Homo sapiens: one gene and its partner. The protein of the gene in region 1 binds, or shares a complex with, the protein of each later gene. Each region holds a gene or a part of one and is shown in the gene's direction. Other genes may lie near its edges.

Region 1 (7,922 bases):
GGACAGGATCGCAGTCTAGGCCCATCCCATCTGGGTCCCAAAGTGGTTGGATTCTATTTCTTTTTTTTTTTTTTTGAGACGAAGTATCACTCTTGTCCCCCAGGCTAGAGTGCAGTGGCGCGATCTCCGGTCACTGCAACGTCCGCCTCCCGAGTTCAAGCGATTCTCCTGCCTCAGCCTCCTGAATAGCTGGGATGACAGGGGCACACCACCACGCCCCGCTAATTTTGTATTTTTAGTAGAGACAGGGTTTCTTCATGTTGGTCAGGCTGCTCAAACTCCCAACCTCAGGTGATCCGCCTGCCTCGGCCTCCCAAAGTGCTGGGATTACAGGCGTGAGTCACTGCGCCCGGCCGATCTTCTTTCAATATACTTTCCAGTTTCTTGGGCAAACTAAGCTTTTTTGTTTGGAGAATAACGTGGGACCTCTGGGAGGGGAGGCTCCGGGAGGAGAGGCACAGCCAGGGCTTCCTCTTTAGAATGTGGTGTCCTTATTACTGCCCGTTTTGCCTCCTCGTCTGCCTTTGTTTCCTTTGGCCTCCAGTGTTCCTGCCTTTTGTGCACCCTGCAACGCAGAACAGCTACGTCTTTGGGGCCCACACGGCATCCTGGAGCTGTAAAATTTCTTTTTTTTTTTTTTTTTTTCATATGGAGTTTCTCTCTTGTTGCCCAGGCTGGAGTGCAATGGCACGATCTCGGCTCACCGCAACCTCCGCCTCCCAGGTTCAAGCGATTCTCCTGCCTCAGCCTCCCTAGTAGCTGGGATTATAGGCACCTGCCACCGCGCCCGGCTAATTCTGTATTTTTAGTAGAGATGGGGTTTCTCCATGTTGGTCAGGCTGGTCTCCAACTCCTGACCTCAGGTGATCCGCCTGCCTTAGCCTCCCAAAGTGCTGGGATTACAGGCCTGAGCCACCACGCCCGGCCTAGGAGCTGTAAAATTTCTTCTTTGTATTTTATTTCTTTGCCCCCAGCAGTTAAAAGTTCTCTTTCTTGGCTGGGCGTGGTGGCTCATGCCTGTAATCCCATCACTTTGGGAGGTGGAGGCAGGCGGATCACTTGAGGTCAGGAGTTCAAGACCAGCCTGGCCAACAAGGTGAAACCCCGTCTCTACTAAAAGTACAAAAATTAGCCAGGCGTGGTGGCGCGTGCCTGTAGTCCCAGCTACTCAGGAGGCTGAGGCAGGACAATCGCTTGAACCTGGCAGGTGGAGGTTGCAGTGAGCCGAGATCGCACCACTGCACTCCAGCCTGGGCAAAAGAGTGAGACTCCATCTCAAAAAAGAAAAAAAAAGTTCCTCTATGGGATGGTCTTTCCAATTTTCTTTTTTCTTTCTTTCTTTTTTTTTTGAGACGGAGTCTCGCTCTGTCGCCCAGGCTGGAGCGCAGTGGTGCGATCTCGGCTCACTGCAAGCTCCGCCTCCTGGGTTGAGGCCATTCTCCTGCCTCAGGCTCCCGAGTAGCTGGGACTACAGGCGCCCCCACCACGCCCGGCTAATTTTTTTGTATTTTAGTAGAGATGGGGTTTCACCGTGTTAGCCAGGATGGTCTGGATCTCCTGACCTCATGATCCGCCCACCTCAGCCTCCCAAAGTGCTGGGATTACAGGCGTGAGCCGGCAGCTGCATATTTTCTTATCTGTTTATTAAGTCTGTTTAAGAATTCCACGGGCCTGGCCAGGCGCGGTGGCTCACGCCTGTAATCCCAGCACTTTGGGAGGCCGACGTGGGCAGATCACAAGGTCAGGAGATCGAGACCATCTTGGCCAACATGGTGAAACCCTGTCTCCACTAAAATACAAAAAATTAGCCAGGCGTGGTGGCGGGCGCCTGTAATCCCAGCTACTTGGGAGGCTGAGGCAGGAGAATCGCTTGAACCCGGGAGGCGGAGGTTGGAGTGAGCTGAGATCGCGCCACTGAACTCCAGCCTGGGCGACAGAGCGAGACTCTGTCTCCAAAAAAAACCCCATGGGCCCTTCATGTTTCCTCTGTTGTACGTTAAATGCTCGGGAAGTATTTTGGGTTTGCAGATCTGATTCCCGAATCCTTGTAATTATCCCATCTCCGAGATCGCTCATGTTTTTTAGGTCACATTGTCATCCCACCCAGGATCTTGGGCCAGGAATTTACGCTCCGCTGAAAGGACGTTCTGACCGGGGGGTGTTCACGCTCCCAGACTAACACAGCGGCCTGTGAATCATGGTTCTCTCTCTCCTGAGACGAGAGTACTGAGGGTAGACATTAATTCAGCCCAAGCGTACAGCTGTGGCCCCAGAAATTGGTCAATTTGATCCGCGAATCCAAAAGGGTCATCTAACAGTGGTTTGAGTTCTTTTAGATTTCTAACCTCTGAACTGGTTAAAGGGGGCATTTACGAAGTCAATATCCCTTCCTCCCGGTGGTCCTTCCCTAAAGGGGAAAAGGGCTGAGGCAGGTCTTTTTGAGCAGGAGGCAAAAGGAAAGTTCTGTGGGTTTTTGTTTGTTTGTTTGTTTTTTGAGACGGAGTCTCGCTCTTGTTGCCGAGGCTGGAGTGCGGTGGCGCGATCTCGGCTCACTGCAAGCTCCACCTCCCGGGTTCAAGACATTCCCTGCCTCAGCCTCCCGAGTAGCTGAGTAGCTGGAATTACAGGCGCCCGCCACCACGTCCGGCTAATTTTCGTATTTTTAGTAGAGGCGAGGTTTCATCATCGTGGCCAGGCTGCCAGTCCTGAACTCCTGGCCTCGTGATCCACCCGCCTCTGCCTCCCAAAGTGCTGGAATTACAGGCGTGAGCCACCGCGCCCGGCCGAAAGTTTCGAATATCCCTTTGGCATTGTTCTGTTTCCCGTTGGAGCTTTCCTGAGGAAGGGGCATGTTCTAGTGGCTGTCCAGCGGGGATGTGGGTGGCAAGGTCCAGGTGGTTCTATAGGGGAGGGATGGAGGGGCGGAGGAGCGGGTGGGGGAGGGGCGGAGGGGCGAGGGGTGGGTGGGAGGGGCGGAGGGGCGGGTTGGGGAGGGGCGGAGGGGTGGGGTGGGTGGGTGGGGGGGGCGGAGGGGTGGGTTGGGAGGGGCGGAGGGGGTGGGTTGGGAGGGGCGGAGGGGGTGGGTTGGGAGGGGCGGAGGGGGTGGGTTGGGAGGGGCGGAGGGGGTGGGTTGGGAGGGGCGGAGGGGTGAGTGGGGGAAGGTGGTCTAGAGGATCCCACCCTTCTTTAGATATGGGGCGTCTCTGCTAAAAATACAAAAATTAGCCGGGCGTGGTGGTGCGCGCCTGTAATCCCAGCTACTCAGGAGGCTGAGGCAGGAGAATCGCTTGAACCCGGGAGGCGGAGGTTGCAGAGAGTCGAGATCGCGCCGCTGCACTCCAGCCTGGGTGACACAGCGAGACTCCAACACACACACACACAAAAGATATGGCGCGTCTCATTCATTCACAAGTTCCTCTTCAAAGGTTTGGCTCGTTCAGCGCCCTCGTTCTTCGTTTCCTACTTCCAAGGCCAACCTGACTTCCTCACCCTCTGGGCCTCCCCGTCTGAGTCTCAGTAAACAAGTTTCCCGCCGGTCCTGATCTGCAGAGATGGCACCTGCCACCCACTCTGCACATCCCCCTCCCGTCGCCACGGGCTCTTCCCGCCAGTGTAGCCACATTCCTGCCCCTTTCCAGTTAGCCCTTCGCGTTCGGCTTAGTCTGCGGTCCTCTTGCATTGCGACTCCGAGTTTAACTTCCAACACACACTTTCAACCTCCAAGAGACGCCCCCACCTGTGTCGCCCCAATAGCGACTTTTCTCACCGTGGTCGCCGCGGAACTTCAAGGGTCCTTCCTACCCGCGTTGCTGAGAGTCTGGGTTTACGCGTCACCTCGGGCGGGACCCGATCCTCCGCTCCTGAGGCCCCCACAATGAAGCAGTCGGACGCGTCTCCCCAAGAAAGGTAACCGCCAGCCTCTCCTGAAACAGAATGGGATCCAAATGGGATATTTGGGGGCGGCGAGTCGGTCCCGCAAAGAGAAACCAGCACTTAGAAAATTTCTCAGCGAGACCACTTTACTTGTACGGAAGGGGGCTGCCTGCGTGGGATGCAATCTCCAGAGCACACGGGACAAAGGAAGGGAGCTTCTGTTCCTCTGTCCTTTCCCTGTTGGCTGGGGTTGGACGCCCACAATCTAAGCTGATCCCGGTTGGCTAAAACTTAAAACTTTTTTAAAATAGGGTAAACGCGCCACCTGCGAGGAAAGAAGAAGGGGGTAAGGTTGATTGACAACTTTAGACCTGGAAGTTGAGTTTCTGAAGAGGAACTTACTTGTCCCAACCAAATGGTGCACAGGACGTTTATACTAAGAAATTATTCATTTTCTGAGATCCAGATTCAAGTGCCCTTTAAGTATTTTTATTTGGGCGGAGGAGGTCACTTCCTCCCACCTAATTTATTAATACGTTCATATATATATATATATATGTACATTTTTAAAGGCAGAGATGTGCGTCTCGCCATGTTGCCGCGTCTGGTCTCGAGCTCCCGGGCTCAAGCGATCTTCCCGCCTCGACCTCCCAAGGCTCTGGGAGTACAGACGTGAGCCACAGCGGCCGGCCCGTGTTTAACTCAGATAAAATCTGGGTAACACACTTTCAACGCTTCAACCCCCTCGGGCGCACCGCTCTGCGCTCATTGCAACTTTGAAAGCAGGAAGGAAGAAATGCGCAGGCTCCAGCCGCGTCCCCGCAGGCCCCACTCCCGTTTCCTAGCAACGCCGGGTCACGTGCGCCGCCGCCCGGATTCCGTAGCGTGAGCCTGCCGGAGCCGGCGCGTACATGCGAGCGTGTGCGCGCGTGCGCAGGCGGGGCGACCGGCGTCCCCGGCGCTCGCCCCGCCCCCGAGATGACGCCGTGCGTGCGCGCGCCCGGTCCGCGCCTCCGCCGCTTTTTATAGCGGCCGCGGGCGGCGGCGGCAGCGGTTGGAGGTTGTAGGACCGGCGAGGAATAGGAATCATGGCGGCTGCGCTGTTCGTGCTGCTGGGATTCGCGCTGCTGGGCACCCACGGAGCCTCCGGGGCTGGTGAGGAGCGGGTAGGGGGCGGGGGTGCGGTCCTGCAGGGGCCGGGAATGGAGGCCGCGGTGCCGACCCGAAGCCGACGGGAGCCTGGGGCCTCGGCGCGGGGCGGCCTGGGGTGCGAAAGGCCGGCCCCGGGGGCTTCCCGCGCCAGCATGGAGCTTGGGGGTGAAGTCCCAGGGTTTGAGGGGGGACTAGAGGTTCCTCCCGGCGCGGCCTGCCGGGCTCCCCCGGGCGCTCCGGCCTCGAGCCCGGCCTCTGTGTGTGGGCGTGAAGCTCCCTGCTTGGAGGCGGGAGCCAGGGGGTCCTGGCCAGGCCGGTCTTGGTCAGGGGAGGTGGGCGTCTTGCTTTTCGGTCACCTGGGGTTGGGGGTGACCTGCTTCCTGGGTGAGGGCGTCTGCGAAGGCGGTTGGAGGTGGCCCGCCCGCCGGTCCCATCGGCCAGGAGAAGGGAGACCCAAAGCCTGGGTGAGCGTCCCCTTTGGCCTGGAGCCAGGGGTCAGGGGCTGGTTGGTGCCTGCCCAACCCGTCCTGCTGGGGCTGGACTCCGCAGGACCTGGGGAAAGCGGCCTGGGCGTGGAATCTGGAGACGGGTCCACCCTGCCTGCGAGTGTTAGGGTCAGAGACCCTCCCCTGAGACTCTCTGGGGCCCCCGCAAGGGCCCGTGCGGCCTGGAGCGATCATCTTGGCGCTCCCTTCTGGAAAAGGGGCTTTTGTCCTCCAAGAGCACATGGAGGCTCTGAGTGGGTCAGCCCTCCGGATCGGGAAGGGATTACCGTTCTTCACGGGATTTAGCCCTGGCGTCTTGCCTAGGGCGTGCACCTGCCCCCGGGTGTTCTCCCAGACTCTTAAGACCTCGCAGGCTCCCTCGAGGGGCCCTGCGTGGAAGGGAAGGCGGAATCTCCCTCTGATTCTGCCTGGATTCAGCACCCAGAATGAGGTGGTCTCTGAACGCCCCTCCTCCTTTACAGGCGAGGAAACAGCCCTGTGGGAAGTCGAGGTTCCAAGGTCACAGTGAGGGGGCCCTGGCCACCCGATTCAGCGCAGGAAATAGTGAGAAAGTCGTTTTTAGCCGACTCTGACCCGCATTCGGTTTCCAGTGCTGTCTTAGGAGGGCCGTGTGTTGAGGGTGGGCAAACGTGGTTTGGAGAGCGCATTTGGGAAATGGATTGAGGTGTGTTTTTCCGGGAGAAAAGCATGACATCCTTTCTTGCTTCATAGAAAATTTCTTCCTTTGTTGAGACCCCCATTTGGTTCTGGGTTAAAGATTTATAGTGAGGCCGGGCGTGGTGGCTCACACCTGTAATCCCAGCACTTTGGGAGGCTGAGGCGGGTGGATCACCTGAGGTCAGGAGTTCAAGACCAGCCTGGCCAACATGGTGAAACCCCATCTCTACTAAAAATACAAAAATTAGCTGGGCGTGTTGGCGCACGCCTGTAATCCCAGCCACTCAGGAAGCTGAGGCAAGAGAATCGCTTGAACCTGGGAGGTGAAGGTTGCAGTGAGCTGATATCATGCCACTGCACTCCAGCCTGGGTAACAGGGAGACTCTGTCTTTAAAAAAAAAAAAAAAAGAGGTCGGGCATGGTGGCTCACGCCTGTAATCCCAGCACTTTGGGAGGCCGAGGCGGGCGGATCACGAGGTCAAGAGATCAAGACCATCGTGGCTAACACGGTGAAACCCCGTCTCTACTAAAAATACAAAAAATTAGCCTGGCGTGGTGGCGGGCGCCTGTAGTCCCAGCTGCTAGGGAGTCTGAGGCAGGAGAATGGTGTGAACCAGGGAGGCGGAGCTTGCAGTGAGCCGAGATCGCGCCATTGCACTCCAGCCTGGGCGACAGAGCGAGACCCCGTCTCAAAAAAAAACAAAAAAAAAATTTATTGTGACCGATGTGTTGGGAACAAGGTGCAGAGCTGGAGGGTCTGGCCTCCTGAAGGGTCAAGAGCAAGGGCTTCGAGCCTCTGTCCTGGGCATTGAGCCGTAGGGGGCCTTGGGCAGAGGCTGGGGAGGGGGCTCCTTCTTCCAGAGGCTTTGCCAGCTAACTCCTGACCTACGTCTGAGATTTCGTCTTCCTGGTAACCAAAGTGGCCCTTTATCGAATGTCTCCTGGGCAAGGGCCTGGCCCCAGCACTGCGGCCAGCTCTCTGGGGAGACACAGATAGGAGCCCATGGGTGAGGTGAGCGCGGAAGATAAGCCGCCCCCGCCAGCCCTGTGGAAACCCAGCCAGGCCTGACTGGGTTTCAAGCACAGCACGAGGTTCCCACATTGAGCTAATTTGGACAGCCAAGTGGGTGAAAGACCTTTGGTCTCTCCCTGCTGGGTAGGGTGGTTCACAGTTTTGTTCCTTTTGTGCATTTGTGCAGGAGACTGAGAAGGGTTTCTTCTGAGCAGAAAGCTTAGCCTGGGGCTTACTGGCCAGAGCTGCCTGCAGCCTGGGAAGCAGGTGGAGTCTGCAGTGCTGGCAGCGCCGCCGTGCAGCGGTGTAGCCGTGTGTGCGCGTGTGTGTGTGTGGTGAGAAACCCCACTTTTGCTGGGGACTGACTCGTGAAGACCACAAGGTCTGGGCAACACAGCCTTGGCCCGTGTGGGGTGGACACTGCTGTTTGCTCTGTGAATTCGTGACTGTGTTTGCCTCTCCTGAAACTTGCTTCAGGGGCGTCTGCGGGTTGGTGGGGCACAGCCGGGTGGGGTGAGTGCCCAAGGTTGGCCGTCCGCGTCTCCTGTGGGCTTGTCGGGGACCGGAGGGCCGGGGTGTGCTAGCTGGGTCCCGAGGGTGGAGGGCTTCACCCCCGAGCCTCAGATGAGAGGAGTGGGAGTGCCTGGCTGCGGCCGGTGGGGGTGGGTGGGGGAGGTGCCCGAGGCTGCTTCCCAGAGCTGTTCTCGCTGGCTGCTGTCTGA
Region 2 (7,873 bases), on another chromosome or scaffold:
AACCCCACCAGCTATGTGCTATTCCAGATGAGAAAACAGCAGCTCAGAGAGGTGATACACAGCTGGTGTCTAAGCTGCAGTCTGACTCCAAAACTCATACATTTAACTCTGTCCCCTGTTCTAACTCCTGCCATGGTGGCCAAGTGCCCAGGTGTTGTCAGATGAGTGACTCAAGGAATGTAAGAAACGAATGCACATTACCGTGTAGCATATCACACAACCACGCAAGAATGGTTTCGTTGCAGTGTTCAAGCTCTCCAAGAGAAGAGTAGTCTTTGAAGGATTAGGAAAGCTTCATGGGGGAGGTGCTCTTTGAAGTGTGGGGAGGATTTACAGAAGTGAAAAGGAGAAGGGTACTCCAGGTGGCAGGCACAGAGGTGGGAAGGTATGTGGTGCATTCATTGCAGGGCACAGGGAGAAAGTGGGACATGGAATCCGGGAGGCCTTCAGGGAGGAGATACATTTGGGCCTGTCTACCTGCCTTTGGGGCAATTTGCAGGTTTTGAGAAGTAGAAATGAGGGTCTGGAGAGGGCATCTGTGAGCCTCTTCTGGGAACCCCTCCCTTGTAGGTGTACATTGTCGGCCACGTGCCCCCGGGGTTCTTTGAGAAGACGCAAAACAAGGCATGGTTCCGGGAGGGCTTCAATGAAAAATACCTGAAGGTGGTCCGGAAGCATCATCGCGTCATAGCAGGGCAGTTCTTCGGGCACCACCACACCGACAGCTTTCGGATGCTCTATGATGATGCAGGTATTCAACCTGGAGGGCAACTGCCAGCTCCCTCCCTCCTTCTCTCCCCAGACCCGCTCAGTCCTGCTGTCTCTCTCCTGACAGGTGTCCCCATAAGCGCCATGTTCATCACACCTGGAGTCACCCCATGGAAAACCACATTACCTGGAGTGGTCAATGGGGCCAACAATCCAGCCATCCGGGTGTTCGAATATGACCGAGCCACACTGAGCCTGAAGGTCAGGAGTCCTGCGGAGGCCAGAGGAGGAGGGTGGGAGGGGCTTAAATGCATCACCACCTTCCCTCACTCTCAGCTTATCCACCTTCCCCTGACCACTGAGCCTCAGGAAGGTTGAGCTCCTTCCACCCTTCTCCAGCTCAGGATCAGAACCCTGGAGGCACCTGCCACCGAGTCAGGGCAGTGCCTCACCAAGTCACCTTTTCCCCTGGATGACTGTCACAGCTTCATACCTGGTCTCCCTGCCTCTGGCCCTGCCCTGCTATGGCCCATCCGCTACACAAGAGAGAAGAAACTAATCTCCTATAGCACCACTTTCATCTTGTCTCCGTCCTGCTCAAAAACCTTCAGTGGCTCCCCAGTGCCTTCAAGATAAAGTTGTGTCTCCTTGACCTAGTACTCAAGGCTTCCCACAGTCTGACTTCAAGCCCATTGTCCACATTTTCCGTACACAGACGAGGCTCCAGCCCCTAATTCTTTGGGCAGTCCCTCACCTCGTAGGATGAGCTTGTGGTTGTTGAGATGAAAAATATTATTCCTTTATTTATCCAACAAAATGCATTAAGTGTGTGCCATTGGCCAGGCCCTGTTCTAATCTCAGAAGATATGTAAATTTAAAAACAAAGTCACCCCTCTCCTGGACCTGACATCTTACAGGAGAGGGACAATAAATATGTAGAATTAATTATAGTACTGAGAGAAGGGCTAAGGAGAAAATCAAAACAGTGAGGCGACAGGGTGACAGCTATGGGAGGTGTGTACTGTGTTAGATAGGTGGGAAGGGGAAGTGTCCACATAAGGTGCCATTTGAGTTCTGAGTGTATTGAGGGAGGGAGCCCAGTGGGTATCTTGGGGAGGTGGAGGGAACAGCAAGTCAAAGGCCCCGGGGTGGGAATGTGCGTGGTAGGTTAGGGGAAGAGCACGGAGGCCATGTGGCCACAGTAAGAGGCACAAGGGGAGAGTGGGAGGGGAGGTCCGATCTTGCAGGCCTCCATGAGGACTCTGGATTTGGAGGGTTTTGCGCAGAAGAATGAAATCCTGTGACTTATAATTTTATGGAATCATCATGTCTGCTGTGCAGGGAACAGGCTGTAGGGGCAGGTGGGGGAGCAGTGAGGCCGTTTGGAGGGAAGGACAAATCCCAGATGACAGGATAGTAGCTTGCCCAGGGTGGAGGCAGTGAGATGGTGAAAAGTGCCAGGTCCCAGATGAATTCTGGATGCAGGATTTGCTAGAGTGGATATGAGCTGTGAGAAAAAGGGACGAATCCAGGAGGCTTCCAAGGCTCTTGGCCTGTGCAACGGTAGGCTGTGGCTGCCGATTACTGAGATAAGTGGCAGGGTGATCAGGCTTCGGAGGGTCAGTCAGAGGTCTTGTTTTGGACCTGTTACCTTTGGGAGGGCTAAATGGCATCAAGTGAAAGTGGACAGGGAAGGGGCAAGTTGGAGCTTGAAGAGGTGAGGATAGAGATGTGATCTGGGAGTGGAGAGAGGACATTTAAAGCCAACGACTGCATGAGCTAACCCAGGTCCTTGATTCTAGTAAAGGTAGATTAAGAAGAGGTCTGAGGGGTTTAAAGAGTGGCCTGTTGTCCACATGGGCACTCCAAGGGTCTGAGCAAGGGGAATGGCAGGCTGCACCATCACCCCCTAACAGGCCCTCCATTCTCCTCAGGGAGGGAGTCAGCCCTGAGCTTGAATCCTGGCTCCACCACTCATAAGCTTTTTGATCTTTTGACCTCTGTGCCTCACTTGCTTCATCTGTAAAATGGGAGTAACAGAACCTCGCAGGGTTTGAGGAGGACTACATGAAATAATGGAATGTTCCTGGCACAGAGTGGCCATGCATACGGGCAGCTCCTCTTACCCCGTCTGCAGTGGCCTGAAGCAGGTTCATAAATGTACCTGGAACCCGCTGGACTGATGAACCCTGCAGAGTCTAGCCGTGAACATGCACCTGGGTCCTAGGAGTCTACAGTTCATAATCTCTCTCATGCTTAGTGTTGCTCTTTTTATGTTGCTTTTATCTATTCATTATGTAAATATTTACTGAGCGTCTTCTATGTGTACCCTAGCATGGTGGGACCTGGGGTAAACCTGGGGTCCAATCCTGCTACCACTGAATACCTGTATGAATACCTGTATGACCCTGGCCAAGTGAATTAACCTCTTTAGGCCTCAGTTTCCTCATTTGTGAAACCTAGGTAATAAGCGCAGTTACCTCATTCGATTCAGAGGATGTCTGCCAAGCACAATGGGTGCACAGCTAAGTGCTCAATAACTACTAGTGGTCATGGTCACTGCTCTAAAGAACTTGGGGGCAAATGCAAGGTGCAGGATGGGGATGGAAGCAGACAACTGCTCACAGCCGGTCTACCCCAAACCCTTTTTCCAGGACATGGTGACCTACTTCATGAACCTGAGCCAGGCGAATGCTCAGGGGACGCCGCGCTGGGAGCTCGAGTACCAGCTGACCGAGGCCTATGGGGTGCCGGACGCCAGCGCCCACTCCATGCACACAGTGCTGGACCGCATCGCTGGCGACCAGAGCACACTGCAGCGCTACTACGTCTATAACTCAGTCAGCTACTCTGCTGGGGTCTGCGACGAGGCCTGCAGCATGCAGCACGTGTGTGCCATGCGCCAGGTGGACATTGACGCTTACACCACCTGTCTGTATGCCTCTGGCACCACGCCCGTGCCCCAGCTCCCGCTGCTGCTGATGGCCCTGCTGGGCCTGTGCACGCTCGTGCTGTGACCTGCCAGGCTCACCTTCTTCCTGGTAACGGGTAACGGGGGCAGCGCCCAGGATCACCCAGAGCTGGGCCTTCCACCATTTCCTCCGCGCCTGAGGAGTGAACTGAAATAGGACAACCGAATCAGGAAGCGAAGCCCCAGGAGCTGCAGCCATCCGTGATCGCGCCACTGCACTCCAGCCTGGGTGACAAAGCCAGACTCTCTCCAAAAACAAACCAGAAACAGAAAAGAAATGACGACCCAAGACCCCCCTACAAGCATACTTCTTTTGCGTATTATGTTTAACTCACAAAACAAAGCTCATCATGCGTTTGATTCTGTGTTGTGTTCCTTTTCTTTTCTTTTGAGACGGAGTCTCGCTCTGTCGCCCAGGCCGGAGTGCAGTGGCGCTATCTCGGCTCTCTGCAACCTCTGCCTCCCGGGTTCAAGCGATTCTCCTGCCTCAGCCTCCTAGCTGGGACTACAGGCGCGCGCCAACACGCCCGACTAATTTGTATTTTTAGTAGAGACGGGGTTTCGCCATGTTTGCCAGGCTGGTCTCGAACTCCTGACCTCAGGTGATCCGCCCGCCTGGGCCTCCCAAAGTGTTGGGATTACAGGCGTGAGTCACCGCGCCCGGCCTCTATTCCCTTCCGTATGGAAATGAGGTTAACTCATTTGCAGGAACCTAACGCCCGCCCTCCCCCGACTCGGATCGCTGGCGTGAACCCAGCGGCCCCGTGCTCTCCGGGTATCCCTGGATCGAGGCGCACGCGTTGTTGCAAAGTCTCGCACTTAGGGATTAGAATGTGCCTTTGCGTTTCGTTTTGTTTTGCAACAATACAGGTGTGAGGGATCGCAGCCCTGGTCCAGGCTCTAGTCTCCCCGCCCTCTCGCTTTCTTGGGCCTCCGGGCGCCTCAAAGGTAAAACTAGGCCATTTGAAGCCTGCGAAGCGAAGGGCAGTCGGTCTTCAGGCCTAGCGGGCTTGGCTGGGCTGGGTCGGTGGACCCCTGGGCTGGCGGCGGGAGCAGAGCATCGAGCGGCTTTTAGCTGGGGTTCGGGCGGAGGACCTGGGACAACCGCGGGCCTCGCTCCTCCCCGGACGGGGCGGGACGGGGAAGTCCCGCCCACCAGGCCCAGGCCCCGGGCCGCCCCGAGGGCTGCGCCCACCTCCTTCCTGCCTCGGCAACCCCGGGCCCTGAGGGCAGGCCCCAACCGCGGAGGAGCAGGAGAGGGCGGAGGCCGGCGGGCCATGCCCTGGTCGTCCCGCGGCGCCCTCCTTCGGGACCTGGTCCTGGGCGTGCTGGGCACCGCCGCCTTCCTGCTCGACCTGGGCACCGACCTGTGGGCCGCCGTCCAGTATGCGCTCGGCGGCCGCTACCTGTGGGCGGCGCTGGTGCTGGCGCTGCTGGGCCTGGCCTCCGTGGCGCTGCAGCTCTTCAGCTGGCTCTGGCTGCGCGCTGACCCTGCCGGCCTGCACGGGTCGCAGCCCCCGCGCCGCTGCCTGGCGCTGCTGCATCTCCTGCAGCTGGGTTACCTGTACAGGTGAGTGCTTCGCCCCGGGAGGGGAGGAGTGTCGGAGCCCAGCACCTCCGTCAGCTGGGTCACCTGTACAGGTGACACGCCATATGCCGGGAAGGGGACTGGGAGAGGGAACCAAGTCCTGTGGGCGCCTGGCCTACAGGTGAGCGTGCAGCCCTTTACGGAAAGGGAATCCCGGTAGACTGCCTTCATTCTAGCCCTAGCTTTCCTGGCACAGGCGAAGAAACTGAGGCCCAGGGAAGAAAGGGAGGCGCATGGGCTTTGAAGTCGGACCTCTCAGGGATCCACTTCTGGCTTTGCCCCCTCTCGCCTCACTTCTGCATTTCTCTGAGCCTCAGTTTCCTCCTGCGTAGAAAGGAGGTAGTCACCCTGAGACAGGTGTGACGGGCAGGCCTGTTGTGAAGAGTGAGCGAAAGAATGAGAAAGTGCCTCGCACAGTGCCTGGCCTGTAATGGCAGGGGCTGCGGACTCAGTTCAGCATCCCATGTTTCAGCATGGGCAGGGCCTTGGGAAGTCACTGACCTCTCAGTGGGGCTGTTTGGTTGCTGTTCCCATTGGGATGGGGATAGCGCCTGCCCGTTTGGTGAAGATGCAGTGAAATGACATCTGTCCACTGCCCTGGCTCAGAGTGAGCACTCAGCAACCTCAGCTGGCTTCTTGACCTGGGCCTCCCTGGGAGTTTCAGCAGCCCTGACCCCACCACAGCGCTTGCCCCTCACAAAGGCCGCCTCTCACCCTGTCTGCCTGGTTGTATTCTTCCCCCTGAAACTTGGCTTCCCACCCCAGACCCAGCAAGAGGGCAGAGATGGCCTCTGACTCATCCATGCCCATGGAGCCAGCCAGGGCTGGGCATAGGCTGGGTCCTGGAAAATGTGTGTGGATTCTGCTCCTTTTTGGACCTGGTGGAGCCTCGTAGAGATGGGAAAACAAACCCAAGGCTCAGAGGCATGCGACAAAGTCAGGGCAGAGGGTGGTGTGGGTTGGGATGGGGTGGCCAGGGCCAGGATCTGCTCTTGAATCCGTTTTTACAAACTCTTGAGATCTGGCCTTGACAAAGCCACACGGAGTCTCCAGGAGTGGAAGAGAGGAGCTTTGAATGTGGCAGTTTTGCCTGAGGGATTATAGAGACATCAGAAAACCCCGGGTGGGCATGAAGGGGTGCAGTTGTTAAGTCCTGGGCAGGCCTCCATGAGCCGTGAATCTGTAACTACCTTATGCATCTTTGTGGCCAATATTTCTGCTGAGCTTGAGTCAGACAGACTGTACTAGCTTTGGCTTTGGAAATGGGTCTCTGTTCCTGCCTGTGAATTGGCCGAGGCAGGGGTCCCTGCTAGGTCACTGGGGACCATAGGCAAAGGCTCCTGCTGAGGGAGAACCCCAGCCTGTCCTGCCTGCCTGCTCCTCAGTGTGTTCTTGTGTCCTTCCAGGGGAAGTGACAGTACATGTCTGGTGAATGAGCTTGTGATGAGTGAACGGGGTTCTCTCCCAATAGGCAACTGAGAGCAAAGTTCTGGGTGGAGGGTCCTTGGTGCATCCTCCACTTACTCTTCATGCCAGTGGGTACCCCAGACCTGTCTGTCCAAACTCTGGACTCTCTTAACTCCGCCCCAATCTCCATCCTTAACCACTCAGGGCCAGCCTCTTAAATGGGATCCCTCCTTCCAATCTAACCCTCCTCCAGCCCCTCCCCTGTGTGGCCGGGGCAAGGCAGAGTCTGATTCCATCTGGCCTGTGCCCAGAAGTGCCCAAGAGGCAAATGTCCTCTTGCCCACAGGACCCCAGGAGATCTTGGGCACACTAAAGTTTGAGAACTACTGCCTCAGGCAACTTTATAGCATGCCTTTCCAATTCAGGTTTGGATCCAAATCCTCATTCCAGTACTTATTAGCTGCTTATAATTTTTTGTTTGTTTTTTAAAAAGAGGTAGGGTCTGGTCAGGCTTGGTGGCTCATGCCTGTAATCCTAGCAGTCTGGGAGGCTGACGTGGGTGGATCACTTGAGGTCAGGAGTTTGAGACCAGCCTGCTGAACATGGCAAAAGCTCATCTCTACAAAAATTAGCCAGGTGTGGTGGCGCATGCCTGTAATCCCAGCATCCCAGCTACTCTGGAGGCCGAGGCAGGAGAATCGCTTGAACCTGGGAGGTGGAGGTTGCAGTGAGCCGAGTTTGTGCCACTGCACTCTAGCCTGGGCGACAAGCGACAGATGTAGACTCTGTCTCCAAAAAAAAAGAAAAAAAAAAAGAGAGAGAGAGGCAGGGTCTCTGTTGCCTGGGCTGGAGTGCAGTGGCACAATCAATCATGGCTCACAGTGGCCTTGAACTCCTGGGCTCAAGCTGTCCTCCTGCGTCAGCCTCCTGAGTAGCTTGGACTACAGGCTTGTACCACCACGTCCAACTAATTAAAAAAAATTCTTTGTAGAGATGGGGCTTGCTGTGTTGCCCAGGGTGGTCTCAAACTCCTGGCCTCCAGTGATCCTCTTGCCTTGGCCTGTCAAAATGTTGGGATTACAGGCGCGAGCCACTGCACCCAGACCTTATTAGCTTCTTGATCCTGTTTCCCCATCTGTAAAATGGGCTTTTGTGAGAAGTAAACAGGACAAGGTTTGTGATGAGCTTGGGACAGTGCT

Evidence for each region. Proteins that work in one complex are often made in the same cells at the same time.
Region 2: the proteins of BSG (region 1) and XKR8 are in contact, whole or in part, in a cryo-EM structure (PDB 7DCE), measured with the Homo sapiens proteins. Residues at the interface, in NP_001719.2 of Homo sapiens: Trp326, Pro327, Gly330, Ile331, Glu334, Val335, Leu338, Val339, Ile341, Ile342, Phe343, Tyr345, Glu346, Lys350; in NP_060523.2 of Homo sapiens: His232, Leu236, Val239, Leu242, Trp243, Leu246, Gln247, Arg280, Gly283, Arg284, Ile287, Phe291, Ser294, Asp295, Leu298, Ala301, Thr302.

Annotation. Positions count from the first base shown.
Region 1 is NC_000019.10:567,674-575,595, forward strand, and holds the start of BSG (basigin isoform 1 precursor), read left to right. Parts: upstream 1-4,922; 5' UTR 4,923-4,961; coding exon 4,962-5,028; intron 5,029-7,922.
Region 2 is NC_000001.11:27,955,114-27,962,986, forward strand, and holds the start of XKR8 (XK-related protein 8), read left to right. Parts: upstream 1-4,859; 5' UTR 4,860-4,956; coding exon 4,957-5,249; intron 5,250-7,873. Other genes in the region: SMPDL3B (acid sphingomyelinase-like phosphodiesterase 3b), read left to right, coding at 571-751, 836-969, 3,363-3,725.